Linked DNA regions of Homo sapiens. The protein of the gene in region 1 interacts with the protein of each later gene in a pairwise test. Each region holds a gene or a part of one and is shown in the gene's direction. Other genes may lie near its edges. The genes, in order: GLRX3, STAU1, ALKBH3, ZNF426, NTF4, METAP1 and FAM118A.

Evidence for each region.
Region 2: the proteins of GLRX3 (region 1) and STAU1 interact in binary tests that used the Homo sapiens proteins (3 or more experiments, as listed by UniProt).
Region 3: the proteins of GLRX3 (region 1) and ALKBH3 interact in binary tests that used the Homo sapiens proteins (3 or more experiments, as listed by UniProt).
Region 4: the proteins of GLRX3 (region 1) and ZNF426 interact in binary tests that used the Homo sapiens proteins (3 or more experiments, as listed by UniProt).
Region 5: the proteins of GLRX3 (region 1) and NTF4 interact in binary tests that used the Homo sapiens proteins (3 or more experiments, as listed by UniProt).
Region 6: the proteins of GLRX3 (region 1) and METAP1 interact in binary tests that used the Homo sapiens proteins (3 or more experiments, as listed by UniProt).
Region 7: the proteins of GLRX3 (region 1) and FAM118A interact in binary tests that used the Homo sapiens proteins (3 or more experiments, as listed by UniProt).

What each region holds. Positions count from the first base shown.
Region 1 is NC_000010.11:130,160,391-130,163,890, forward strand, and holds part of GLRX3 (glutaredoxin-3), read left to right. Parts: intron 1-405; coding exon 406-607; intron 608-3,500. UniProt on the Homo sapiens protein: Together with BOLA2, acts as a cytosolic iron-sulfur (Fe-S) cluster assembly factor that facilitates [2Fe-2S] cluster insertion into a subset of cytosolic proteins.
Region 2 is NC_000020.11:49,118,835-49,122,334, reverse strand, and holds part of STAU1 (double-stranded RNA-binding protein Staufen homolog 1), read left to right. Parts: intron 1-2,206; coding exon 2,207-2,353; intron 2,354-3,500. UniProt on the Homo sapiens protein: Binds double-stranded RNA (regardless of the sequence) and tubulin.
Region 3 is NC_000011.10:43,901,331-43,904,830, forward strand, and holds part of ALKBH3 (alpha-ketoglutarate-dependent dioxygenase alkB homolog 3), read left to right. Parts: intron 1-185; coding exon 186-395; intron 396-3,500. UniProt on the Homo sapiens protein: Dioxygenase that mediates demethylation of DNA and RNA containing 1-methyladenosine (m1A). Repairs alkylated DNA containing 1-methyladenosine (m1A) and 3-methylcytosine (m3C) by oxidative demethylation. Has a strong preference for single-stranded DNA.
Region 4 is NC_000019.10:9,532,146-9,535,645, reverse strand, and holds part of ZNF426 (zinc finger protein 426), read left to right. Parts: intron 1-366; coding exon 367-458; intron 459-1,679; coding exon 1,680-1,806; intron 1,807-2,720; coding exon 2,721-2,801; intron 2,802-3,500. UniProt on the Homo sapiens protein: May be involved in transcriptional regulation.
Region 5 is NC_000019.10:49,062,019-49,066,246, reverse strand, and holds the start of NTF4 (neurotrophin-4 preproprotein), read left to right. Parts: upstream 1-1,428; 5' UTR 1,429-2,508; exon of another isoform or gene 2,509-2,631; intron 2,632-3,496; exon of another isoform or gene 3,497-3,590; coding exon of another isoform or gene 3,591-3,608; intron 3,609-4,228. UniProt on the Homo sapiens protein: Target-derived survival factor for peripheral sensory sympathetic neurons. May promote ameloblast differentiation and subsequent reduction in proliferation of ameloblasts.
Region 6 is NC_000004.12:98,998,721-99,002,220, forward strand, and holds part of METAP1 (methionine aminopeptidase 1), read left to right. Parts: intron 1-3,500. UniProt on the Homo sapiens protein: Cotranslationally removes the N-terminal methionine from nascent proteins. The N-terminal methionine is often cleaved when the second residue in the primary sequence is small and uncharged (Met-Ala-, Cys, Gly, Pro, Ser, Thr, or Val).
Region 7 is NC_000022.11:45,330,434-45,333,933, forward strand, and holds part of FAM118A (protein FAM118A), read left to right. Parts: intron 1-169; coding exon 170-298; coding exon of another isoform or gene 299-323; intron 324-1,991; coding exon 1,992-2,277; intron 2,278-3,500.

The sequences.
Region 1 (3,500 bases):
CCTGGACATAATGGAATCTCTGGCTGGTTCTGGTTTGATGAATGACTTTTAGGAAGCAGGTGCACACCTGTGCTTCCAGGCACCCATGGGTGTCATCGTAGTTCCCCAAATACCTCATTTATACTTAGTAATAGATTCATTCCAGCCAATGTGGGGGCAGTCTTTTTTGTATTATGTTAGACTGACCTGATTTGACTTTGAGATGTTGCAGTGTTTTCTCAGTGTGTTTCTGAGAAAAGAAAAAAATTATGTATTTCTAAAATTGAGATGCAGTGCAGGCAATTGGCAATGAGGGTTTCTTTTTTTACATCTCCGGTAATACTGTTGTCCCCTTTAAAAATCTGCTATAACAATGTCATTATTATGGAATGCTGCATGTATTCTAAATAACTTTTTAAACTTTAGAATTCTCAGAAAATCGACCGATTAGATGGTGCACATGCCCCAGAGTTGACCAAAAAAGTTCAGCGACATGCATCTAGTGGCTCCTTCCTACCCAGCGCTAATGAACATCTTAAAGAAGATCTCAACCTTCGCTTGAAGAAATTGACTCATGCTGCCCCCTGCATGCTGTTTATGAAAGGAACTCCTCAAGAACCACGCTGTGGTAAGAAGCTGCCTTTAACATAATATAAACAAAATGGGTGCTTTCCCAGAATGGGGTATGGTTGAGATGGGCATCCTGTTTCCAAGGATGCTATACCATACATCTTATACTTGTGTTCACATACTTTTAGAAAATCAAAAAGGTTATAATTCCCAATGACACTATATAAGAATTAGTTTGCATTATGGACTCAGCATGTTGGAACCAAAAGGGGTCTCAGAACTCATCTAATTCAGATTTTTGTTTTATACTGAAGTCCTCAGACTCAAAGATAGAGGTGACTTGCCCAAGGTCACCTGGTAAGCAGAGTTAGGATTAGGTTCCAACTACCATATTGCTGTCTCTTTTGCCTGTTTATCTACTTTTGCTGTTAACAGTTATTTTTTCTTTCTTGGCAGCCTCCTGTTTTTCACCTAGTTCAGATTCAGCAATTAAAAAATTTGCGGAATTTTTCAGTGTTTTTGTGTCCAGCCTGTGTGCTTTTGCCTCCCCTGTGTCATCACTGTCTAATGATTCTCTTCCTGCATTGCTGTCATTTCCAGTTTATAGCTGCTGGTAATGGAAAGATTCCGAATTCTTGGCTTGTAGTCACTCTTATTTTCTGTACACATGGATGCTTATAATTTTGTCCTTAAGTAAGTTTTAGAGTTATTTGACCCCTCTGGTAGTGGGTTTATGTTATTTTCTTTTTACTGTGCCTAGTACAACATTAGTATGCTGCATAATTGAGCATTTAATGCCATTTGATGATGCTGTTGAGACTCTAAGAGTATTTGTATCAACTACACAGGAGGGACTTTATTAAGATAGGGGCAGTAACATTGAGTATGCTCTTGATATGATTACAGCATGTCCAGAGTGACTTTATAAAGATAGCCAAGCTTCTAGTGTGAATTTGATTCTAAATTCTTCCCTGTAGGGTTATTAAATTACATATTAGCTTATGATAATGTCTAGTTTTAAAAATAAAGTTTCATGATGAATTCTTATTTTTTCGAGATGGAATTTCGCTCTTGTTGCCCAGGTTGGAGTGCAATGGCACGATCTCAGTGCGACGGAACCTCTGTCTACTAGGGGTCAAGCGATTCTCCTGTCTCAGCCTCCCGAGTAGCTGGGATTACAGGTGTCCACCACCATGCCCGGCTAATTTTTTTGTATTTTTAGTAGAGATAGGGTTTGTCCATGTTGGTCAGGCTGGTGTCAAACTCCTGACCTCAGGTGATCCGCCTGCCTTGGCCTCCCAAAGTGCTGCTGGGATTATAGGCGTGAGCCACCATGAATTCTGTCTTAAAAGTATCTCTTAGTTCTGCCTAAAAAATTTCCCTGCCAGTATTTATGTGTCAGATAATGCCTGCTATTTGTGTATTGCAAAGCTAACTTAGTCTGTACTAAACTAAAGGTAGCAACAGATAGTCTCTGTTGCGTTTGTTATTTTGTTTTTAACGGGGGTTGCAAATGGTTCACATTCACCTTCTTCCATGAAACATGAAAATTATTTCTTGTACTTTGTGCGGTGGCCACTAAATGGGAACTTACCACTTCAGTTGAATGGATTGTATTCAGCACCTTCATTCAGATCTCAGGTACAGTAGAACTGGCTGTGAAATGTGGGTGAAGCACACCTACAGTGAAATCTCTACAGTATTCTCTCCTTTGGGGTTGAACAGCAGCAGTCTCAGTCTTTTCTGAATGATAAACCTAATGAAAAGGCAGGTGGCAACACTGAAGCTTGGGGAAGGAGTGCTCAGAGGAGAAGGATGTCCTGGGAAGTGTGCTGCACTGGGTGTCATGCCAGGCGAGCCTCAGGCCCACCCCTGCGGCCTTAGCAACTTTGGGGACAAGTCAGGTACCCTCCTTGTGCCTTTAATTCCTTCTAGTGCTGTTGGGAACAAGATTGGCTGTTGGAGCCAATCTTGGAGGGCCTTTTCAGTGTAGATATTGTATGATTATTCAAGTAAATTAGAGAGAAACTTAGACATTTTAATTTTTCTGCTTACCTTTTACTTTATTAAACTGAATTTAAAATATACTGCTAGCATTTTTATATTTATATTAAACTTATTTAAATTATGTTTATTATAATGGAGTGAGATTTGGAAGACTGTACAAATAACAGAATAAAAAAGAAGCTTTGAAATATTTCAGGGCTGGGCGTGGTGGCTCATGCCTGTAATCCCAGCACATTGGGAGGCTGAGGTGGGCGGATCGCTTGAGATCAGGAGTTCGAGACCAGCCTGGCCAACATGGCGAAACCCCGTCTCTACTAAAAATACAAAAATTAGCTGGGCATGGTGGAGTCCTGTAATTCCAGCCACTTGGGAGGCTGAGGCAGGAGAATTGCTTGAACCTGGGAGGCAGAGGTTGCAGTGAGCCGAGATCGAGCCACTGCACTCCAGTATGGGTGACAGAGTGAAACTCTGTCTCAAAACAAAACAAAACACATTTCAGAGCCATCTGAAAACGTAGTATTATAGTTATTTAATTAATAAAAGACAATAAATATTTTGAGATACATATGGTTGAATGGTTACAGTTTCTTCTTTTAAAGTACTTCTATATAATTTTTATAACTACATTTTCAGTGGGTTTTTCTGTTTCCTGATATTTTCTGTTTCATGTCTTTCTGTCACATATAGTAAATAGATCATTTAAGAATGTTGCTGTTCTTTAATAAAATACTTAGGATTAATTGGAAAATATTTTTAAACTGTTTTCTTATGGGAACATAAGTCACCTCGACCCTCTGCTGTTCCTTTCTGAGCCTGGTTAGTGGAGCATTGTTTTTGCTCTTCTTCTGGCATTTTAGAGAAGGGCGTAGGCAAAGCTCCCTTTATAAAAGCACTGGCCATCTCATCTTGTGAACACGCACGTGGCTGCTCTTTCCTTATTTTGC
Region 2 (3,500 bases), on another chromosome or scaffold:
ATCAAGAGATCTGTTCCTCTTCCTCCTAATTCTTATGGAGTCTGGAATCTAGGGTTACCTCTTCCTTAGATTGGGTGACACTTCAGATTAGTATGGAACATTTCTTTGTACTTAGCTGATTAAGTTCAAAGCTAAGTGGTCATTTCACATAGGCAGCTTAACTTAATTGTGATTTGAATTTAAGTGCTTTCTGATGTAAGACAGAATCCTTATCTCTTGTATAGCAATTTATAACTTAGAAAGTTGACCTCGTATATTTTACCTATGCAGTCAGAAGGTAGGAAAAGAATGATCCTTTCATTCCACAAAAGGAAGTTGCAGTTTGCTGAGAGGATCAGTAGTTTGCCCAAGATGAAATGGCTGGTAGATGGCCAGGTTGGAATTTAGTCCCAGGCCAGGGAATGGTTTCTTTGACTCTCTGAGTCTTGTGACCTGGGCTTTTGGTTTTAGCAGCCAGGTGCCTGTTATTACAATCAACTTGGAAGGGGGTTGTAAGTAGTGATGTGCTGGAACATGTTTAACAACCAGCTCTTCTTCGGGGAGGGTGGTTTGGTGGAATGAGCTGAATATGTATGTTATAGATATATACATGGGTGTTATATACATGTGTGTTATAAATTTTACTGACACAAAGGATGTGTGTTATAAATTATACTGACATATATGTGTGTTTTATAAATTTTACTGACAGAAAGGATGTGTAGTACAATTTATAAATAATATACACTTTATTGTAAATTTCATACATATTTCAGTGTGACAGTTACCAACGATAGTGTTATAAAATCAGACAGCACATAATGGTTTATTACTATCCAGTTCAGCAAAGGTGTTGCTCATGTCACTGACAAATACATACTGTAGATTTGAGATTTTGGTTGTAGCATGAATACTGGTTGAGATACATTTTTTTTGGGGTAGAGGGGAATGGAGTCAACTTGCTCTGTTGTCCAGGCTGCAGGGCAGTGGTGTGATCTCGGCTCACTGCAACCTCTGCCTCCCAGGTTCAAGTGATTCTCCTGCCTCAGCCTCCCGAGTAGCTGGGATTCACGGGTGCCCACCATCACGCCCAGCTACTTTTTGTATTTTTAGTAGAGATGGGGTTTCACCATGTTGGCCAGACTGGTCTCGAACTCCTGACCTCAGGTGATCCACCCACCTCAGCCTCCCAAAGTGCTGGGATTACAGGCGTGAGCCACCACGCCCGGCTGGTTGATGTTTTTTATTTATGTTAATAGGTAAGATGAAAGTAAAACAGGCTGGGCTTGATGGCTTACGCCTGTAATCCCAGCATGACGGATCACTTGAGGTCAGGGGTTCGAGACCAGCCTGACCAACATGGTGAACCCTCATTTCTGCTAAAAATAGAAAAGTTAGCCAGGCATGGTGGCACACGCCTGTAATCCCAGCTACTCGGGTGGCTGAGGCAGGAGAATCGCTTGAACCTGGGAAGTGGAGGTTGCAGTGAGCTGAGATCATGCCATTGCACTCCATCCTGGGTGAAGAAGTGAGACCCTGTCTATCCCAAAAAAGAAAAAAGAAAAAGTGAAACAATGAAGACATGTAACATCACTCATTTGTAAATGATATGAGTGGCTTCTCTGCAAAATTAGATAATTTTCAAAGACGGGAAGATATTTCAGTTTTTTGTGCTAGTTACAATGTAATGGCTGCAGACTTCTCATGCTTTTAAGATTAACCTGCTTTATTAACCTTTTCATCATTGTAGGTTTAGAGTTAGACAATAAACAGCTTATGATCTTTGATACGTAGCATTTGTATATTTCTGTGGTATAAATAGTCCCACCATGGCTGATTTCAAGCTCTCAAAGTGATACTTCCAATGGCAATGCTGGGAATAGATGTACAGTAGTTCACCATCACAGACTGTTTCCATTGTACAAATGCAATAGCTGGGCAGACCCTCAGAACACAGATGATTATAAAATGCAGTCAAAAATTACCTCTGTTAAAATAATTATCAGCTTATATAATTAAATGTTTAATACTGGCTGTGTTTAACAGCCAGCTTCCCAAACTCCTGACTATTTAATAATTAGCTCTCAGAGACAAGGAGGCCAGGTTCGGGGCACTGCTGTTATCTTGCTTCTGACCATAGTTGGTTATTTTGCTGACACACCAATTCCTGCCTGGTTGTTATTCTGAAGGTTTAAGCACTGGTCTGTGTTTTGACTTCTTTGTGCAGGTGAAGGTTGGAAACCACACTGCAGAAGGAACGGGCACCAACAAGAAGGTGGCCAAGCGCAATGCAGCCGAGAACATGCTGGAGATCCTTGGTTTCAAAGTCCCGCAGGCGCAGCCCACCAAACCCGCACTCAAGTCAGAGGAGAAGGTGAGTGCTGTGGGCTCTCTGATTGCAAGATGGTCTCTCGCCTCACCCTAGGGAACTGGGGCACCTCCAGGGGCAGGCTTCAAGGCAAGGCTTTATCTGCCTGACAGTTCAAGGAGTCCTGCTGAGGAGTGTCTCATCCATTTGGACCATAATGTGCTCAGAGGGGCCTCGCATGTCCACTGGCCCCAGGAGGCTCTGGGTTAGATCGTTGATTGTGTCAGTATCTTTGTGGTCTGGGGACGCTTTGTGGAGGGCAGCTTGCTCCTCTCTATTTGTAGGATGAGGATGAAGGGTAATTAGGACTGAAATTACTAAGTGTGATTTGCACTCTAGAAATGAAGCCTGTGTGAAAGATTTATAACTGTTAGGCTTTCGTTAATTGTGGAATAGGCTTTGATTTTTCTGGCAAAATAAGACAGTGTGACAGTAGAGACAGGCCAAATCCAAAGTTTAGGTTTGGGATTTCTTTTTTCCTATGTGAGTTAAACATCAGATGAAAATAATCCCCTGTTGAAAAATTCACGGCCAGGTGTGGTGGCTCAAACTTGTAATTTGGGAGGCTGAGGCCTTGAATCCAGGAGTTCAAGACCAGTCTGAGCAACATGATGAAACCCTGTCTCTACAAAAAATTAAAATATCAGCCAGGTATGGTGGCTTGTACCTGTAGCCCGAGCTACAAGGCTGAGATGGGAGGATTGAGCCTTGGAAGGTCAAGGCTGCAGTGAGCTGTGATCATGCCACTGCACTCAGCCTGGGCGACAGACCCTGTCTCAACAACAACAAAAAAGGAACGTAAAAAGAAAAATTCGTGTCTGCCAGAAGTGGTAAGCAGGACCTCAGCAAAAGCCATGGCTGACCTTCTTCTTTCCCATCACTGAATGGTCCTGGTGAGATAAACTTGAAATCAGGCCTGATTCATTCATGTCTGCCAGTCATATTGACAGAAACAGCATCAGTCATGGCCAGTTAATAACTGACTGGGACCCCAGATACCACCAGTATAGATCTTAGACTTGGCTTTAGGGTTTTTCATTTCAGAATCTTGTAGGACATTCAGAGTGTCCTTTGTTACTTCTTAGAAAGGTGATGTTGTGTTAGACAAAATTCTTAGGTAATAACATTTTCCCCGTAAGGGTGTTAATTTTGG
Region 3 (3,500 bases), on another chromosome or scaffold:
GAAATGATGGGAGGGAATTAAACTACTTTTCTTGCCTTCTGTTTATTGCATTCCATGTGGTTTGCTTATTACATGCCCTGGTTATAACTTGGCTGATTTTGCCCTTTCTTTTCTGTTTTTCCATGCGGCTGTCATTTTGTGTGTAATGCGACTGTCTTGCCCTTTTCTTGGTCTGTGGATTGCAGTGGCACCCTGTGCTGCGCACACTAAAGAACCGCATTGAAGAGAACACTGGCCACACCTTCAACTCCTTACTCTGCAATCTTTATCGCAATGAGAAGGACAGCGTGGACTGGCACAGTGATGATGAACCCTCACTAGGGAGGTGCCCCATTATTGCTTCACTAAGTTTTGGTGCCACACGCACATTTGAGATGAGAAAGAAGCCACCACCAGTGAGTATTCTCTTTTTCTTATGCTCTTCCTGCCTCTTATTAGTCTGTGGAAAAAGTAGAACTCCTAAAAGCTTCTACTTTCAGATTTCGAGCATGGGAATACACATTTTGTTGATGAAACATTTTCAAGTGACTACTTCCCCATGGTTAACTTTTGACTTCCAAAGTGCTCCTTCATTCATTTACAAGTCCAACAAGAATTGGCTGCCTTATGCTAGGTGCTGGCGGCTCATTTCATTGATGATAAACTCCCTGTCCTCCTGGAGATACAGTCTAGTTGGGGTAGATAAATATTGCCTATTACTCAAATAATTGCAATTGTGATCAATGCTGTGAAGGAAAGCCTTAGAAGAATGACTCAAGCTAGTGGGAGGCTAAGGAAGAGGAAGGAGGCTAAGGAGGACGTCCCTGAAGAAACCTTTATTTTAAGTGTTCTTCATGGTAATATGGCCACTTTTCTGAAAGGGAGCATTCACATATGTTTGTTCCTTCTTAGCCTTCTCCTGAAATACAGGTGAATCTAACTCTTTCAGAGAGAGGAAACTCAAGCCAGATTATCAGAGATGGTGATCTGTCCACATTCAGGTAGAAAAACAGTGACCAAAAAATTAATAACGATATAATAACTTCAGTTTCCACCCCAGCGCTTACCTCAATTATGTGACATTTGAGGAATACTAGGGTTATTAATTTTTTAAAAAATCAAAACTGTAGTCCCTTACGACTAAGAAAGATAGTAATGCCAAGAAAAGAGCCAATTATTTTATTTTCAGTGTTTGTGTCTCTTCCTAACCAGCATTCCTGATCATTCAGCTTATAATGTTAAACCAGACCCAGTCGGTGTGGAAGGCCAACCAACAGGCTGTTTTTTTGTTTGCTTGTTTTTTAGAGAGGGAGTCTCACTCTGTCGCCCAGGCTGGAGTGCAAGTGGCACGATCTCGGCTCACTGCAACCTCTGCCTCCCCAGTTCAAGCGATTCACTTGCGTTAGCCTCCCGAGTAGCTGGGATTACAGGCGTGTGCCAGGACCCCTGGCTAATTTTTGTATTTTTAGGAGAGATGGGGTTTTGCCATGTTGGCCAGGCTGTTCTCAAACTCCTGACCTCAGGTGATTCGCCCACCTCGGCCTCCCAAAGTGCTGGGATTACAGGCATGAGCCACTGCACCTGGCCCAGGCTGATTTTTGAATAGACCTAAGCCAGACCACATCATTATTAGTTCTTGTGTCAGTTCTTCGTCAGATATACTTCCATAAGAATACAGTTAACAGACTGAGTGTTTTCCTGGTGTGTATTGGGTTTCCATGCATGGTATTTTTAAAGCATATTGTGTGATTTTGCATATATGCCATTAAGTACCTTTTGTTGGTATAATTTCCATTGATTAGGCTTTCTTTGGTTATGTTTACATAAAAAGTTTGATCATTGTTAGGGGATTGGTAGTTGCCGGTGTTTTTTTAAGTGAACTTGCTCTCTAAGCCTTCAGTTACATTGGCAAGCAGCCTTCTCATATACCAAGGAGTACCACTTGAGAATCAGACAAACCAGCTTTTGCTATATTTGTTTTAGATATGATTATACTTCTGTACACAGCTTTCACTCAGTTAAATACCAAGTTCACATGTGTGAAAAATTCATCCTGCCCTTAGTAAGACTCCTGTTGCATAAATAGTAGAGAGACACTGTATCAGTCTCATTATTTAAGTTCAGACCCTCTTCTCAAGCCGGATGTATGGAACCTCAGCTTGTTGCCAGGAGTGGTCCTGAGACCGGGGGCCGTAGCAGTGAATGAGTAAGATGAAATTGTCTTTCTCCTCCTGGAGCTCATCTAGCATATGCTAGCACTGCGCCTTCCTCCTAGAGTTATCCTTCTGGCCTCCTGATTGGCAAATAAGCTATAGTATATATAGCCTTTGGTATAATAATGGTTTTTAGTTCTTCACACTTACTTTCTTTGTTGCTCAGTATTTAAGTATTCAGTTACTGTTTCTTTACACACATATATTCACCACCACCATGCCCCTTTTTAAAAATTTGGGCCTATTTATAGATTTGAAGCTTAAGAATTCCCTAAGTATGCTTTTTGGATAAATCATTTTACTGTACAAGCAATTTCCAAATATTATGCATTCACAATATTCTGGTGCCCAGAAATACCCCGTTTCTTCTCCCCTCCAGAGAGCTGAATTTCTTCATTTTCTCATATAAAGATATGACATATGGTGATCAAGAGCTATTTCTTGGTAGTACACATCAGTTATGTTATAGGGTAACATGTAGATGGAGAGCATAACTACTACATACATTGTTCCTGTGGGCAAGCATTTGGAACAGCGCTTTATCCTGCCGTGCCCCATGCTGTAGCTTTCTCTTCTCCTCAGCCTTCTTGGAGCCTATTTTGATGAACATGAATGATAATACAGGCCATGAAATACTCAGAAGTGGTAAAGTCCACATAATTGTCTGCCAGTGGCAAGGGAATCTGCGCTATGACGATGGTAGCTGATTTGATTAAAATACTGATCCAATAAGTAAGAAAATTTGCCTGAGATTTTAACAAAGTTGCCTGAGGAAAGGGATTTGGGAAGAAATATAAACATGTTGGTACTTCAGGTTGTTGACTGTAGTAAGTTTTGGCTTCTGGCCTAGTCTTAACTATGATTGAATTTCATGCAGTTTTTGTATATCATCTCAATTCTGGCTTTTGTTTAAGATTGGGAAATTGAATATTAATATGTTTGAAATTATAATCACACATGAGTAAAAAGTGACCTTTTTTCCCCAGAACCTGTAAAGTCCATTTTTGTGTAAACAGGATACAAGTTTAAACTTTTGAAGATTCCTTCAGGTCTCACTAACGGATTTCCAAAAACCTGGGGCTCTACAAATGTAGCTAAACTCGAAGTGCAGAACCCTTTCTTTGAGTTGATGGCCTTGGAAATATACCTTAAAGTGCATCATCTTTATCTTATAAATAATCCTTTTTTCCAAAGGATTGAAAGGAAGCGATTATTGCACATTTTTGTCTACTTTTCTTTATAAACTCAGGTGATGAGAACATGACTCATGATTCATACAGCCCAAGGTAAAGCATAATTTAAAAAGTA
Region 4 (3,500 bases), on another chromosome or scaffold:
ACTGTGTTGTCCAGGGTAGTCTCGAACTCCTAGGCTTAAGCAATCTTCTTGCCTCAGCTTCCCCAAGGAGATGGGACTACAGGTGTGTGTTACCACACCAGGCTCATTTTAAAATTTTTTTGTAGAGACGGGGTCTCACCGTGTTGCCCAGGCTGATCTCAAACTTCTCGCCTAAAGTAATCCTTCCACCTCAACCTCCCAGAGCACTAGGATTACAGATGTGAGCCACTGCAACTGGCCTTATGTGTGTTTTCCTGATTTTGCAGGAATATATGGGAATTTCATACTAGGAGGTAATGACCTCTAGGTAGGTGGATGTGGGGATTATGGTCAGCTCGGGGTTCTCTTGCCTTCATTTTCTTACAGGACATTATCTTTCTGGGGACCCAGTTTGCCTTCATGAAGAAAAGACACCAGCAGGAAGAATAGTGGCTGACTGCCTAACAGATTGTTATCAGGTAAAAAGCAGCTGTATTCTTATACATAGTGACATACTTGCATCCACCAGGTAGACACATTTCCCTCTAGGCAGAGTTGTCTCCAGACTTCTTTTTTTTTTTTTTTTTTTGAGAGGGAGTCTCGCTGTGTTGCCAGGCTGGAGTGCAGTGCTATGCTCTCGGCTCACTGCAAGCTCCGGTCTCCAGGCTTCTTAAAGCAAATAAAGTGTCACTCAAGGACTGAATCCCCATTTGAATTTCCCCAAGGGTTGGGGCCACCCATATAGGGAGGTGCTAACTTGGAAATCATCCCAGGCCGGGCATGGTGGCTTACACCCATAATCCCAGCACTTTAGGAGGCTGAGGCAGGCAGATTGCTTGAGTACAGGAGTTCAAGATCAGCCTGAGCAACATAGTGAGACCCCGTCTCTACAAAAAATTTAAAAATTAGCTGGGCAAAGTGGTACATGACTGGACTCCCAGCTACTTTGGAGGCTGAAGTGGGAGGATCACTTCAGCCCTGGAGGTTGAGGCTGCAGTGAGCTGTGATTGCACCACTGCACTCTAGCCTGGGCAACACAGCAAGACTCCGTCTCAAAAAAATTAAAAAAAAAAGTGTCCTTTAAGTTGTTTATCAGCATTGATCAGATGTCTGGAATGTGCTGAGCAATGCGCTCAAATAGATGGAAATAAGATGAGATCTTGGGCGGGCACAGTGGCTCATGCCTGTAATCCCAGCACTTTGGGAGGCTGAAGGGGGCGGATCATGAGGTCAGGAGTTCGAGACCAACCTAGCCAGTATGCTGAAACCCTATCTCTACTAAAAATACAAAAAATTAGCCGGGCATGGTGGCGTGTGCCTGTAATTTCAGCTACTCAGGAGGCTGAAGCAGGAGAGTTGCTTGAACCTGGGAGGTGGAGGTTGCAGTGAGCCAAGATTGCACCAGTGCACTCCAGCCTGGGCAACAGAGTAAGAGTCCATTTCAAAAAAAAAAGAGATCTCCTAGTCTGGTTGTGCTGAGATAAATTCATATTCAAGAAGTGCCATTAATGCACTATGAGTGGAGGAGATGACAGTGAGTATGTTTAGGGTGCGAGGAGTTTCTAGGACCCTTAAAACCTGGGGCTGGTCACTGCAGCCCTTGGAATCCTGCATAGGCATTGGGTCCCCCTTCCTCATCCTCCAGCGAACGCTGATGGGCTTGTTACTTGGCTCCAACCAGCATGTGTGTGATGCTTTAGGATTCAGTGACCTTTGACGATGTGGCTGTGGACTTCACCCAGGAGGAGTGGACTTTACTGGACTCAACTCAGAGAAGCCTCTACAGTGACGTGATGCTGGAGAACTACAAGAACCTGGCCACAGTAGGTAAGACTGGCCTCATCCCTTGCAGCCTTCTATGGAACTGATATGTTTTGTACTTACTGTTTTGCAGCATTGGCAATGTCAACTCTGAATGCAAAGAGAAATAACAGAGACATAGTCCCTGTCCTAAATAGATTTTAATCTACTGTGACCATTCTGAAAATGTGGTCCAAGATTAATAGCAACACCATCTGCCTGTTAGAAATGTACATTTTCCTTCTCCACCCAGAAACCTGGAGTTGAAGCCCAATAATCTGTGTTTGAACAAGTTCTCTGGATGACTCTGATGCACAATAATGTTTTAAAAAACACTGGGGTAGTTGTTTCCCCAGAAGAATGAAGATCTCTGTTATACTTCCTTATTCCTTATTTGTTGTTGTTCTTGTTTTGAGACAGTTTCACTCTGTCACGCAGGCTGGAGTGCACTGGCATGATCTCAGCTCACTGCAATCTCTGCCTCCTGGGTTCAAGCGATTCTTGGGCCTCAGCCTCCCGAATAGCTGGGATTACTGGCATGCGCCACCACACCCAGCTATTTTTTTTTTTTTTTTGTATTTTTAGAAGAGATGGGGTTTCACCATGTTGGCCAGGCTGGTCTCGAACTCCTGACCTCAAGTGATCCACCTGCCTCAGCCTCCCAAAGTGCTGGGATTACAGGCATGAGCCACCACACTCGGCCATTATTTTGTGTTTGAATAAAAGTCTCAGTGCTTTTTAAATGTGTACATAAGCCTGAATTTCGGTTTAGGGGACAGAAGTAACCAGACTGTTTGGGGCACAGTCAGAGTTGTTATTTGCATTTTTCGCCCTTTTGAAATAGCTTCACCACTTTCATTAGATCTGTAGTTCCTGAATCACAGAAAGGTTTGTAATCTTTTTTATGAGCCTCTTCCATTAATGTATTTCTCTGTGCTCAGGAGGTCAGATCATCAAACCCAGTCTAATCTCTTGGTTGGAACAAGAAGAGTCAAGGACAGTTCAGGGAGGAGTTCTCCAAGGTGAGTGTTCATGAAGAACAACTCTGGTTGATGAGAAGTTCAGTATGTTTGAAAGCATAATTAGGAAACTTTTTAACATGTACTTTCTCCCTGCACTCTAAACCCCAAGGTTTAGAGAAAGTTAGGAAATATTTAACTTCCCACACGCTTTTATTTACAGAGCAGTCCCCCCTTGTCTGTGATTTCACTTTTCACGGTTTCAGTTATCTGCATTCAACCATGGTCCAAAAATATTAAATGGGAAACTCGGCCAGGCATGGTGGCCCACACCTGTAATCCCCACACATTGGGAGGCCTAGGTGGGTGAATCATTGAGCCCAGGAGTTCAAGACCAGCCTGGGCAACATACCGAGAACCTTGTTTCTACAAAAAATACAAAAATTAGCCGAGGGTGGTGGGACGCACCTGCTGTCCCAGTAACTCAGGAGACTGAGCTGTGAGGATGGATTGAGACTAGGAGGTCAAGGCTGTGGTGAGATGTGATTGCACCACTGTACTCCAGCCTGGGTGATAGAGTGAGACCCTGGCCACTGACCCCCACCCCACAAAAAAAAAAAAAAAAAAAAGAAAAAAAGAAAAATTTCCAGAAATAAACAAAACATAAGTTTTAAATTTCTCACCATTCTCAGTAGTATGATGAACCCTTATGTCATCCTGCCTGGGGTGTGAATCATCCTTTTGTCCAATGTATCTACACTG
Region 5 (4,228 bases), on another chromosome or scaffold:
CCCCCAATAAATAACTGGAGCGGCCTTGTGTGTTGCCTTGGCTGGGATGGTGAGGAGCAGGAAACACCCTAACCGGGGACACCCTCCTGCCACCTTGCCATGCTATATTTAGGCTGAGGGGGTGTGGGATGACCCTCGAGGCAGGTGTCAGTTTTCCTTCTGAAAATAGCGCAGGCGGAGGGGAGCGGAGTCTCAGGGTAGAGGTGTGGTGGGGTGAGGAGCCCCGCTGCCCTCATGACTGTCCTGAGACACTCCGGCTCCGGTCCCATCCCTGTCTTTCTCAGGGTCTCTCAGGGGCTCTGTCCCCTTCTCGGGGGGGTGGGGGGGTCTGCCCTCACGCTCTCTGGGCCTCTGTCTTCTCTCTGGGCTCCTGCCCTCCCCCACTCTCTCTAGTCTCGGTCCCCCTCTTTCTTTTGGTCTCTCCCCACTTTTCCATGTCTTCTCCCTATCTCTCCCTTCATGTCACCGCGCACCATTTCTCAAGGTAGCTGATTGTTCTTAAGACACATCTGTCTATCTCTGGTCCTATGATACCTTGCACGTCTCTTATCTGAGCTCAGGACAAGACCTTCTCCCCGGTCCCCAGCCAGGAAATTCCAGGGGAGAGGAGTATGCGGGAGCCCCCACATCCACTGTCTCCCCGGGCCTGGGGCCTTATCACTGCCCAAGCCCAGCTGGTTAATGTCTGGCGTGGAGCTCCTGGGAAGTGGGGAGGAGAGCAGAGGGTGGGAATCTGCCCCGGGATTGACACGCAATTGGCAAAAGACGGCAAAGGAATCTCAGGCCCAGACTCCTGGGGCTAATGGAGGAGGAGGCTGGGGGCTGGACTCCTGAGTCTGAGACGGGGCGGGGTTGGGAGGTGGTGGGGGGAACTGTGGGCTTAGTACTCAGGCGCCTGGGGCTGGGGGGAGAGGTGGCTGGGGTCGCAAGTCCTGGGTCTGAGGGAGGAGGGGCCGGATGCCTGGACTCCTGGGTCTGAAGGGAGGAGGGGCTGGGGGCCTGGACTGCTAGGTCCAAAGGAGGAGGCAGCTGGAAACTGGGACTCCTGTGACCAAGGCGGCCGCGTTGAACGAGCCAGGCCTGGCTTCCAAGGTCCCGGCACGCGAGTGCAAGGCAGGATCCCCCGGCCCCTCCTCTGCCGCCCGGCGCCGCCCCGCCCCCGCCCCCGACCCGGGCCCTGCGGAGCGTGAGCAGCTAGCACCCGGCGGGCCAGCGAGCGTCCCTGCAGCCAGCGAGCAGGAGGAGGAGCTGCTGCCGGGCGGAGGGCAGCCGCGGGAGCCGAAGAGGGCGCCCCAGGTAAGATCTCCACTCCTCCTCCCTCGGGATTCCGGCGTCCTGGTCGCCCTGCCCTCGGGTGGGGAGGGACGGGGGCGGGGCCGACCGGGGCGGGGCTTGGCGGAGGAAACTGAGGCAAGAGGGAAGTGTCCCAGATATGCAGCCGGTTTCCCCTGAGGGGTCTCGGAGTCCGGAACCCCCAACCCAAATCTGGAGGATGAGGAACCCGGAGTCTGCATTTCTTAGTATCCGAGAAGGAGGGGCCTGAATTCCAGAACTCCTGGGTCTGAGAGAGGAGGGCACTGGGGGCCTGGATTCCTGGGTCTGAGGGAGAAGGGCGCTGGGGGCATGGACTCCTGGGTCTGAAGGAGGAGGGCGCTGGGGACCTGGACTCCAGGGTCTGAGGGAGAAGGGTGCTGGGGGCCTGGGCCTGGACTCCTCCTGGGTCTGAGGGAGAAGGGTGCTGGGGGCCTGGACTTCTGGGTCTGAGAGAGGAGGGCGCTGGGGGCCTGGACTACTCCTGGGTCTGAGGGAGGAGGGCGCTGGGGATCTGAACTCCTGGGTCTGAAGGTGGAGGCCCTGGGGTCTGCACTACTCGGTCTGAGGGAGAAGGCGGTCCTGGTTGGGTCAGCCTGGGCTCCTTTCACTCTCCACCCTTCCCCTTTCCTGTACCGAGGAGCCAGGGCAGGCAGCCACTCCAGGTATGTGCAGAAGTCTTGGGCGGGCCCTGGCCTGTCCTGTGAGGAGGGAACATTCCAGGAAGCAGCTTGGGGAACCAGGGCTTCTTGAGTGTGGGCCCTCAGGGACCCGGGTGTCCAGGCCAGTTCCGCCCCATCTGGGAGATGAATGGGCCGAGGGGGATGTAATCTCTTCCAGCCTCCTTCATCCACTGCCTCTCCCTTCCCCTATTCTCCCTTCCCCTCCCTCCATCTGCTTCCCATCCCAGCCAGGAGCCATCACCTGGGTAGAAAAGGGGCCTCTGGAAAGGGGGCGGGGCCTTGACTCTTGGGTACCCTGCACTTGAAGAGGAACTCTGGGAAGGGGTTGTTCAGGGATTTGGCCCCTTCCCCACCTGCCTCTATAACCTGTCTATTCTTTTCTTCCCCTAGGTGGTTGCCCCCTCCCTCTCCTGAGATGTCAGGAAGGAGGGGGCCACCTGTGTCCTCCACAGGGGCCCCCCGAAGCCTGGGGACTCCCAGCCCCAGAGCTCCGAGGCGGAGGAGGTGCTGACAGGTCTGGTAACTACTGACTGTTTCCCAGTCTTCTCCACGCCACCCTTTCCCAGAACCACAGGCTTCCAGAATGTTGTAGGGAAACTGCAAAATCCGCGCCTCCACCAGCCTCTCCCAGCGCCAGGTCAATTTCACACACAGGGAAACTGAAGCCTGCCTCAGAGGGGCAGCGTTTTACCTCCTTAGTGGCAGTTTTGAGGTGAACTGGGGTCTCCCTAGGATTCCAGGTTGTGACCTTTCTCTAAATTGTGGAATGTGGCCAGGCGTGGTGGCTTGAGTCTGTAGTCCCAGCTACTCAGGAGGCTGAGGCAGGAGAATGCCATGAACTTGGGAGGCGGAGCTTGCAGTGAGCCAAGATCGTGCCACTGCACTCCAGCCTGGGCGACAGAGGGAGATTCCATCTCAAAAAAAAAAAAAAAAAAATTTTGTTTGGGACCAGGCATGGTGGCTTATGCTTGTAATCCCAGCACTTTGGGAGGCCAGGACACGACTATTGCTTGAGGTTGGGAGTTCAAGACCAGTCTGGCCAACATGGTGAAACCCCATCTCTATTAAAAATACAAAAATTAGCTGGGCACAGTGGCAGGTGCTTGTAATCCCACCTACTCAGAAGGCTGAGGCAGGAGAATCACTTGAACCCAGGAGGCAGACATTGCAGTGAGCCAGGATTGTGCCACTGTACTCCAGCCTGGCCAACAGAGTGAGATTCTGTCTCAAAAAAAAAAAATTGTTTGGAACATCCTCCAAGATGCAAGACTGTCGGTTCCTCAGAGTTGCACAGGAAGGACGGCAGAGTGCAGTTGCCCAGAGGTGAAGTCCCATCTCTGCCATTTGCTGGCTGTGTGACCGGGCACAAATCATTAACTTCTCTGAGCCTGTATTTCAACATCTGTTACTGTTAAGTAATAGTAGTTGAATTATTTTTATTTTTATTTTATTATTATTATTGTTTTTTAAGACGGAGTTTCGCTCTTGTTGCCCAGGCTGGAGTGCAATGGTTCAATCTCAGCCCACCACAACCTCCACCTCCTGGGTTCAAGTGATTGCCCTGCCTCAGCCTCCCAAGTAACTGGGATTACAGACATGCGCCACCACACCCGGGTAATTCTGTATTTTTAGTAGAGAAGGGGTTTCACCATGTTGACCAAGCTGGTCTGGAACTCCTCACCTCAGGTGAGCCGCCCATCTCGGCCTCCCAAAGTGCCGGGATTACAGGTGTGAGCCACCATGCCTGGCCTTATTTTTACTTTTGAGACAGAGTCTCACTCTTGTCGCCCAGGTGGCAGGGGAGTGGTGCACTCTCTGCTCACTGCAACCTCGGCCTCCTGGGTTCAAGTGATTCTCCTGCCTCAGCCTACTGAGTAGCTGGGATTACAGGCGTGCAGCACTATGCCCGGTTAATTTTGGTATTTTTGGTAGAGATGAGGTTTCACCATGTTGGCCAGGCTGCTCTGGAACTCCTGACCTCAAGTCATCCACCTGCCTCAGCCTCCCAGAGTGCTGGGATTAGAGGTGTGGGGCACAGTGCCTGGCCTGTAGTAGTTGAATATTTATTATTAATCTACAAGTTGCGCATTACGCAAGCCCTAGATATAGGGTCCCCCAAACTTCTAGAACAAGGGCTTCCCCACAATCCTGGCAGGCAAGCCTCCCCTGGGGTTCCCAACTTCTTTCCCCACTGAAGTTTTTACCCCCTTCTCTAATCCCAGCCTCCCTCTTTC
Region 6 (3,500 bases), on another chromosome or scaffold:
GGCATTCCCAGTTACTCTGTCACACCACCTTGTTTATTCCTTTATGACCTTTTGTGCAATCTATGATTACCTCACCTGTTAGAAAAATGAGGATTTTTTTTTTTTTTGAGACGGAGTTTCGCTTTTGTTGCCCAGGCTGGAGTGCAATGGTGCGATCTCGACTCACCGCAACCTCCGCCTCCCAGGTTCAAGCAGTTCTCCTGCCTCAGCCTCGCAAGTAGATGGAATTACAGGCATGCACCACCACGCTCAGCTAATTTTGTATTTTTAGCAGAGATGGGGTTTCTCCATGTTGAGGCTGGTCTCGAACTGCTGACCTCAGGTGATCCACCCTCCTTGGCCTCCCAAAGTGCTGGGATTACAGGCGTGAGCCACCATGCCCGGCCGAGAATGTCTGTTTTTTAGTCGGAAGGTGAACTTCATGAATGATCCTATCTTGTTCACTGCCCTGTTCTCATTTCCCAGTATGATGCTCTGTATGCAGTAGGTGGCCATTAAATGTTTGAATTAATGGATAAATGCATCAAAATAGAGAGGTATACTGCTGTGTTTGAATCACAGCTCCATCATTTACTAGTTATGTGACTTGGGCAAATAACCTCTCTTTTTCAGCTGTATCTTTTTAAAATGGGGCTATTAATAATACCTATCTCAGGGTTTTGATGAAGACTAAATCCAAAGTATGTAAAGCTCTTAGCATATTAGTAAACTTAATGAATGTTAGCTCTTTTTATTGTTATACTGTTTTATGTTTAGGAAAGTAGAAATATTTTATCTAGGATGCTTAATTTTTTTTTTTTTTTTTTTTGAGACCGAGTCTTGCTCTGTCACCCAGGCTGGAGTGCAGTGGTGTGATCTCGGCTCACTGCAACCTCTGCCTCCCGGGTTCAAGCGATTCTGCTGCTTCAGCCTCCCCAGTAGCTGAGATTACAGGTGCGCACCACCACGCCTGGCTAATTTTTTTGTATTTTTAGTAGAGACGGGCTTTCACCGTGTTAGCTAGGATGGTCTGTAACTCCTGACCTCGTGATCCGCCTACCTCAGCCTCCCAAAGTGCTAGGATTACAGGCATGAGCCACTGTGCCAGCCTAGGATGTTTGATTTTAAGGAAAGCTTTTGTTCTTTAGAGGAGTACAACCAGTTTTACTTGAAAATTGAGTTTTCCAAGAGTTCTTGATGTTCGATTGTGTTTATTAATAGAAGTTTTCCTTCCTATTTAATAGTTTATGTATGTCTTTTTCATTTGTGTGTAAGAATTTTTTGAGGACAGAGGGTGTGTTTTACTCATTTTTGTATTTTCCAAAGTGCCTTGCCCACAGTAGGCCCTCATTTCCTTACATGAAAGAAAAGACATCAGTGGGCTTGCAATGGAAAACAAAGAAATTCTGTATTTACATTATCCTTTGTAAACACTGAATAGTATAGTATATTGTTGATACACTCATTTATTTGCTTATGGTTGAATTTAGTTACTTTTCAGTTTTTTAGCTGATGTTTAACTTTGTGAATAGCATAGGGCAGTTGCTGTCTCCTCTGGTTAGAGGATCAGCTGGGAGGGACCTGAGTGATCTGTAACTATTTATATTTATAAGGCATAAAAGGTAGTAAGCATAGTGTAAGTGGAAGGAGACCTGGATTTTGCTCCCATGACCTTGGGTAAGTCCCCTCCTTTGCTTAATGAAGCATCCTCTTCAATGGAGTTGAGCAGAAGGTGACTAAGAGAGCATCCAGGGTGCCTAGTAGAGCATATAGTAAATTTGGGCCTTATTGTGCATATAACCTCATATGTAATGTTATTAAAATCAGTACCAAGGAAGGCTTAAAAATCTTTGAGGGGAAATGTTACTTGTTTATGAACATTTTTGACAAATCCAATAATAGGTTCTTTAAAAGAAGTGGTAGGTAACATGATTAACTGAATCCAGGAAGAAAGTCTTTTTTTTTTTTTTTTTTAAATAACAAGACAGTTTTTCTTCTCTCTCTCTCTTTTTTTTTTTTTGAGTTGGGATCTTACTCTGTCAACCCAAGGTTGAAGTGCAGTGGCGTGATCTTGGTTCACTGCAACCTTCACCTCCCAGGCTCAAGTGATCCTCCTACCTCAGCCTCCCAGGTAGCTGGGAACACCAGTTTGAGCCACCACACCTGGCTAATTTTTTGTGTTTTTGGTAGAGACGGGGTTTCACCGTGTTGCCCAGGCTGGTCTTGAATTTCTGAGTTCCACTTTGCCTCAGCCTCCCAAAGTGTTGTCTATACAGGTGTGAGCCACTGCACCTGGCTGGAAGAAAGTCTTGTTGAGCATCTTGTAGGTTGGAGTTAGAAGGTAGAGAAGGAATTGCCGTTATAACATGCAGTATCTTTGAAATGCAACCCTGCCCTCTGAAACTTTCTCTGTCAGTAACAACATTCCTGCCAGTGCAGGGTGTTTCTGGAATTCATCTTCATTAAAGGAGATATTATCATGTTGTGCGTTTTTATTTATAGGGATTTTCTTTAAATTCCTCATGTCACTTCAGACCACCCTTAAACACTCCTGTAAGTTAGCTGAGTTTAGGTACAAATGCCATAGCTTCTTATAAGCAAAAAGATAGGATGAGGTAAAGAGAAATTATGAGTCTTTTTAAAACAAAACAAAAATAATTTCATAAATTGTTTATTGTAGAAAAATAGAAAATATGTGTGAAGATAATCAATTACCCAGAGATGATTTCTATGAAATTTTGGTGTGTATTCTTAAGAACATATTTGCGTATTTATTCATGTGCACACAGTTGTGTATGTTTTTACAAAAATGGCAACCATAATACATATAATCTTAGAGAATTTTCTCATCCTTAATGTCTTAACCAGTGTTTTGGTAGTGTCATGTCATGGCTACATTTACATGATCCTTTATAAAGACTGTTATGGGTGTACTGTCATTTGTTTATTCACTTATAGTTGAATTTAATTTCTTTTCAATTTTTTACCTTCTGTTTACTCTTCAATAAATATTCCTCGAAAATTTAAATCATTTTGACTTACTCAGGAACGTATAATAATGGTACAGGATTTGGTACATGAACCCAGAATTGAACTATCCTAAGCTAATTCTATATCCTTTTCCAGAACAGTGGTTCTCACAGTGTAGTTAGTGGATTATTGTTGGTTTGAGGGCCTTCTGGTCATCTATGAAGTTTTGGCATGAAATATACCTACATTACAGTAGAATTTGTAAAACAACAACAACAAAAAAACGAGCATCATTTGGTTGGTAGGCAATCAAAAGTTATACCAGTCTTTGAGTTACCTTTTTGGAAATTGAAGTGCTATAGGAAATGTGATCTTATACTGTTCACTTAGTTTGTGGATTGAAATCAAGTTTTAGTCATGGTTTTTTAAGGTGAATCTTTTTCATGTTTAGCATATTTGCAAAATTTTAGTTAAGTTTTAGTAAATTTCATAGGAGTGACAGACATAAGTGCATAGCTAAGCTCATTCCAGCTCTAGATATTCGGAAGAAA
Region 7 (3,500 bases), on another chromosome or scaffold:
ACAACCAAGTTTCTCTTAGGTTTTGAAGGTATAAGTGTAAAGTGAAGCATCTCTCGATGATTCTTTCCAAGATAGGTTTAAAAACTATGAATCCATTTTCAGTATTTTCTTCTCTCTGTTTGAAACAGTTTGAGGATGTGTTTCTTTTTCTTGGCTTGATGTTTGGTAGGTCCTTGAATGGGCAAGAGGGCACATGAAGTACGGCGTCCTCCACATTCACGGCCTCTACACGGACCCCTGCGGGGTGGTGCTGGACCCATCGGGGTATAAAGACGTCACTCAAGACGCAGAAGTCATGGTACGGCCCGTCCTAATTAGCATCGGTGCGTCCTCTCAGGGATTACTGGTGGCCACTGGCCATTGGCTGCAGTTGAGTGGCTTCCCAGGCTCCAGGCGTCCGTGCCCTTCAGGTCGGCCCTGCACACAGTTGCTGAGGGAGGGGCCACGTCTCTTGTCCTCGTCTGTGTCTCTGGGGTCCCGCATGGTGCCTCCATGTTGAGTAGATGCTTGGCGAACATTTGTTGGAGGAAGGAATTCATGATTCCTTTCAAAGCAGAGATCTGCCTGTACCCTCTCTAGGAGCCCTGGCCATTTGGTGGTTCTCACCTGCCCAGGTATATAGTGAAACTCCTCAGCATGACATATAGGCCCCGTGCAGTCTAGAATGTTGTCCTTGTTCTTCCAGGCTTCTTCTGGTCTGAAATTCTCTGCTCTCCTTCCTGTAGTTGTAAAGCTTCATTTTTGGCCTGGTATAGTGGCTCATGCCTGTAATCTCAGTGCTTTGGCAGGCCAAGGCAGGAGGATTGCTTGAGTCCAGGAGGGAGAGGCTATGGTGAACTGGGATCGCACCACTGCACTCCAGCCTGGGCAACAGAGCGATACCTCATTTCTAAAAAAATAAATAAATAAAAGTAAATAACACTTCATTCTCTGTGAGGTTTTATTTTTCTTCTTCTTAAATAGACAGGGTCTTGCTCTGTGGCCCAGGCTGAAGTGCAGTGGCATGATCAAAGCTCACTGCTTCCTTGAACTCCTGGGCCCAAGGATCCTCCTGCCTTAGTCTCCCGAGTAGCTGGGACTGCAGGTGTGTGCCCCTACTCCCGGCTGTGAGGTCTTCCTGATGCCCTAGAATGCAGTGTGGAAAAGCTGTGCTTCTGGTAAGCACTGAGAAACTCGGTGTCTGTGGATTTACCCTCAAGCACACAGCTAGGCGCCCTGTTCCTCAGTGCTCATCCCTGGGCCGGTGTCATTCCGTGACAGGTGTCAGCAGATGAGTGACTGGGCAGATGCTTTTCAGTTGCATCATTAATACTGCTTGGTGATAAGAAATACCTGGGCTGAGACTGAGCCTCTCTGAGATATTTGGTTAGCTGCATTGGCGATTCCCTCCTGCCTGCCTGAGTGACCCCATGCAATCTGCTTTCCCTGTGCCCACCCGACCCCGTCAGTCATGGTCACTGATCCCCTCCTCAGCTCTCTTGCCCTCATTCGCAAAACCACCCCTGCAAGAATTCCCACATATGGCCCACTGAGATCAACATTAATTTCAGGGTGTTTTATGTGCATAATTCTGAACTGAAAACATTTACTGTCCTCATTTTGTGTTTTAATAATTTAAAATCGTACCCAATTTGAGAAGATTTGAGTTGGGTGACTGCACTGGTGAGTGTGTGGGGTGGGCGATGGGCTGGCCTTGCTGTTAGGGGTGTGGGCACTGCCACCCGCCTCGGCCAAAGACCAGCTACCCTGGCTTAGCTGGGGACAGGCAGGCTCAGCCCAGCTTTGGTCTTTGCTGCCACAGGCTGCTGCTGGGGGGTGGCCTGAGTGCCATGTCGGGAAGGATACTGTCCTTCTAACTGTGCTCCTCAGCGTGGCCCTGGGAACGCCTGTCAGGGAGCAGTGATGTAAAAGCACACACATGTGACTTGGTTAGTTGTAAGCTCTTGCTGTCTTTCAAATGAGCACTCAATTTCTTCATTGGCCTTTTCTAGGAAGTCCTCCAGAACTTATACCGCACCAAGTCCTTTCTGTTTGTGGGCTGTGGGGAGACCCTTCGTGATCAGATATTCCAGGCCCTCTTTCTTTACTCCGTGCCGAATAAGGTGGATTTGGAGCACTACATGCTTGTGCTGAAGGAGAATGAAGACCATTTCTTTAAGCATCAGGCAGATATGCTTCTGCACGGAATCAAAGTTGTATCCTACGGGGACTGTTTTGACCACTTTCCAGGATATGTGCAAGACCTTGCCACTCAGATCTGCAAACAGCAAAGCCCAGGTATGGGATCTGGCTTCACTTTCCTTTTTCTTTCTTTTTTCTTTTTTTTTTTTGAGACGGAGTTTTGCTCTTGTTGCCCAGGCTGGAGTGCAATGGCACCATCTTGGCTCACCACAACCTCCGCCTCCTAGGTTCAAGGGATTCTGCCTCAGCCTTCCGAGTAGCTGGCATTACAGGCATGCGCCACCATGCCTGGCTAATTTTGTATTTTTAGTAGAGATAGGGTTTCACCATGTTGGTCAGGCTGGTCTCGAACTCCTGACCTCAGGTGACCCACCTGCCTTGGCCTCCTGAAGTGCTGGGATTACAGGCGAGAGCCACCGCGCCCGGCCTGTCTTCACTTTTCAAGTACAAAACTCACAGGGCTCTTCCAGTTGTTTCTCTCTGTCTTTTTTTGATGGAACCCACATACCCCTAAAATTCACCAGTCTTCGTTATTATTTTTTAAAACTGCCTCTGTAATTTAAAATTAGAAGATTGGAGTAATTGGTGTCCTAGTGACAGTCTGTAACTAGAACTTTAAAGTAACTTCAGGCTGGGCACCGTGGCTCACGCCTGTCATCCCAGTTTTTTGGGAGGCCAAGGCAGGAGGATTGCTTGAGCCCAGGAGTTTAAGACCAACCTGGGCAACATAGGGAGACCTGGTCTCTACAAAAATGTTTTTAAAAATTAGCTGGGTTTGGAGCGGGCGCGATAGCTCACGCCTGTAATCCCAGCACTTTGGGAGGCTGAGGTGGGTGGATCACGAGGTCAGGAGATCGAGACCATCCTGGCTAACACGGTGAAACCCCGTCTCTACTAAAAATACAAAAAATTAGCTGGGCATGGTGGCGGGCACCTGTAGTCCCAGCTACTCAGGAGGCTGAGGCAGGAGAATGGCATGAACCCGGGAGGCAGAGCTTGCAGTGAGCCAAGATCGCACCACTGCACTCCAGCCTGGGTGACAGAGCAAGACTCTGTTTCCAAAAAAAAAAAAAAAAAAGAGCTGGGTTTGGTGGTGGACATCTGTGATACCAGCTACTCTGGAGGCTCAGGTGGGGGGATTGCTTGAGCCCAGGAGTTAGAGACTGCAGTAAGCTGTGATCAGGCCACTTATTCCAGTCTGGACGTCGGAGGAAGACCCTGTCTCTAAAAATAAAAAATACAGTAACTTTGAAGTTTACAGCTGTGCACACATGTATAGCTGGACACATTTATTCCTGTTTCAGGTTTCCTTAACCAAG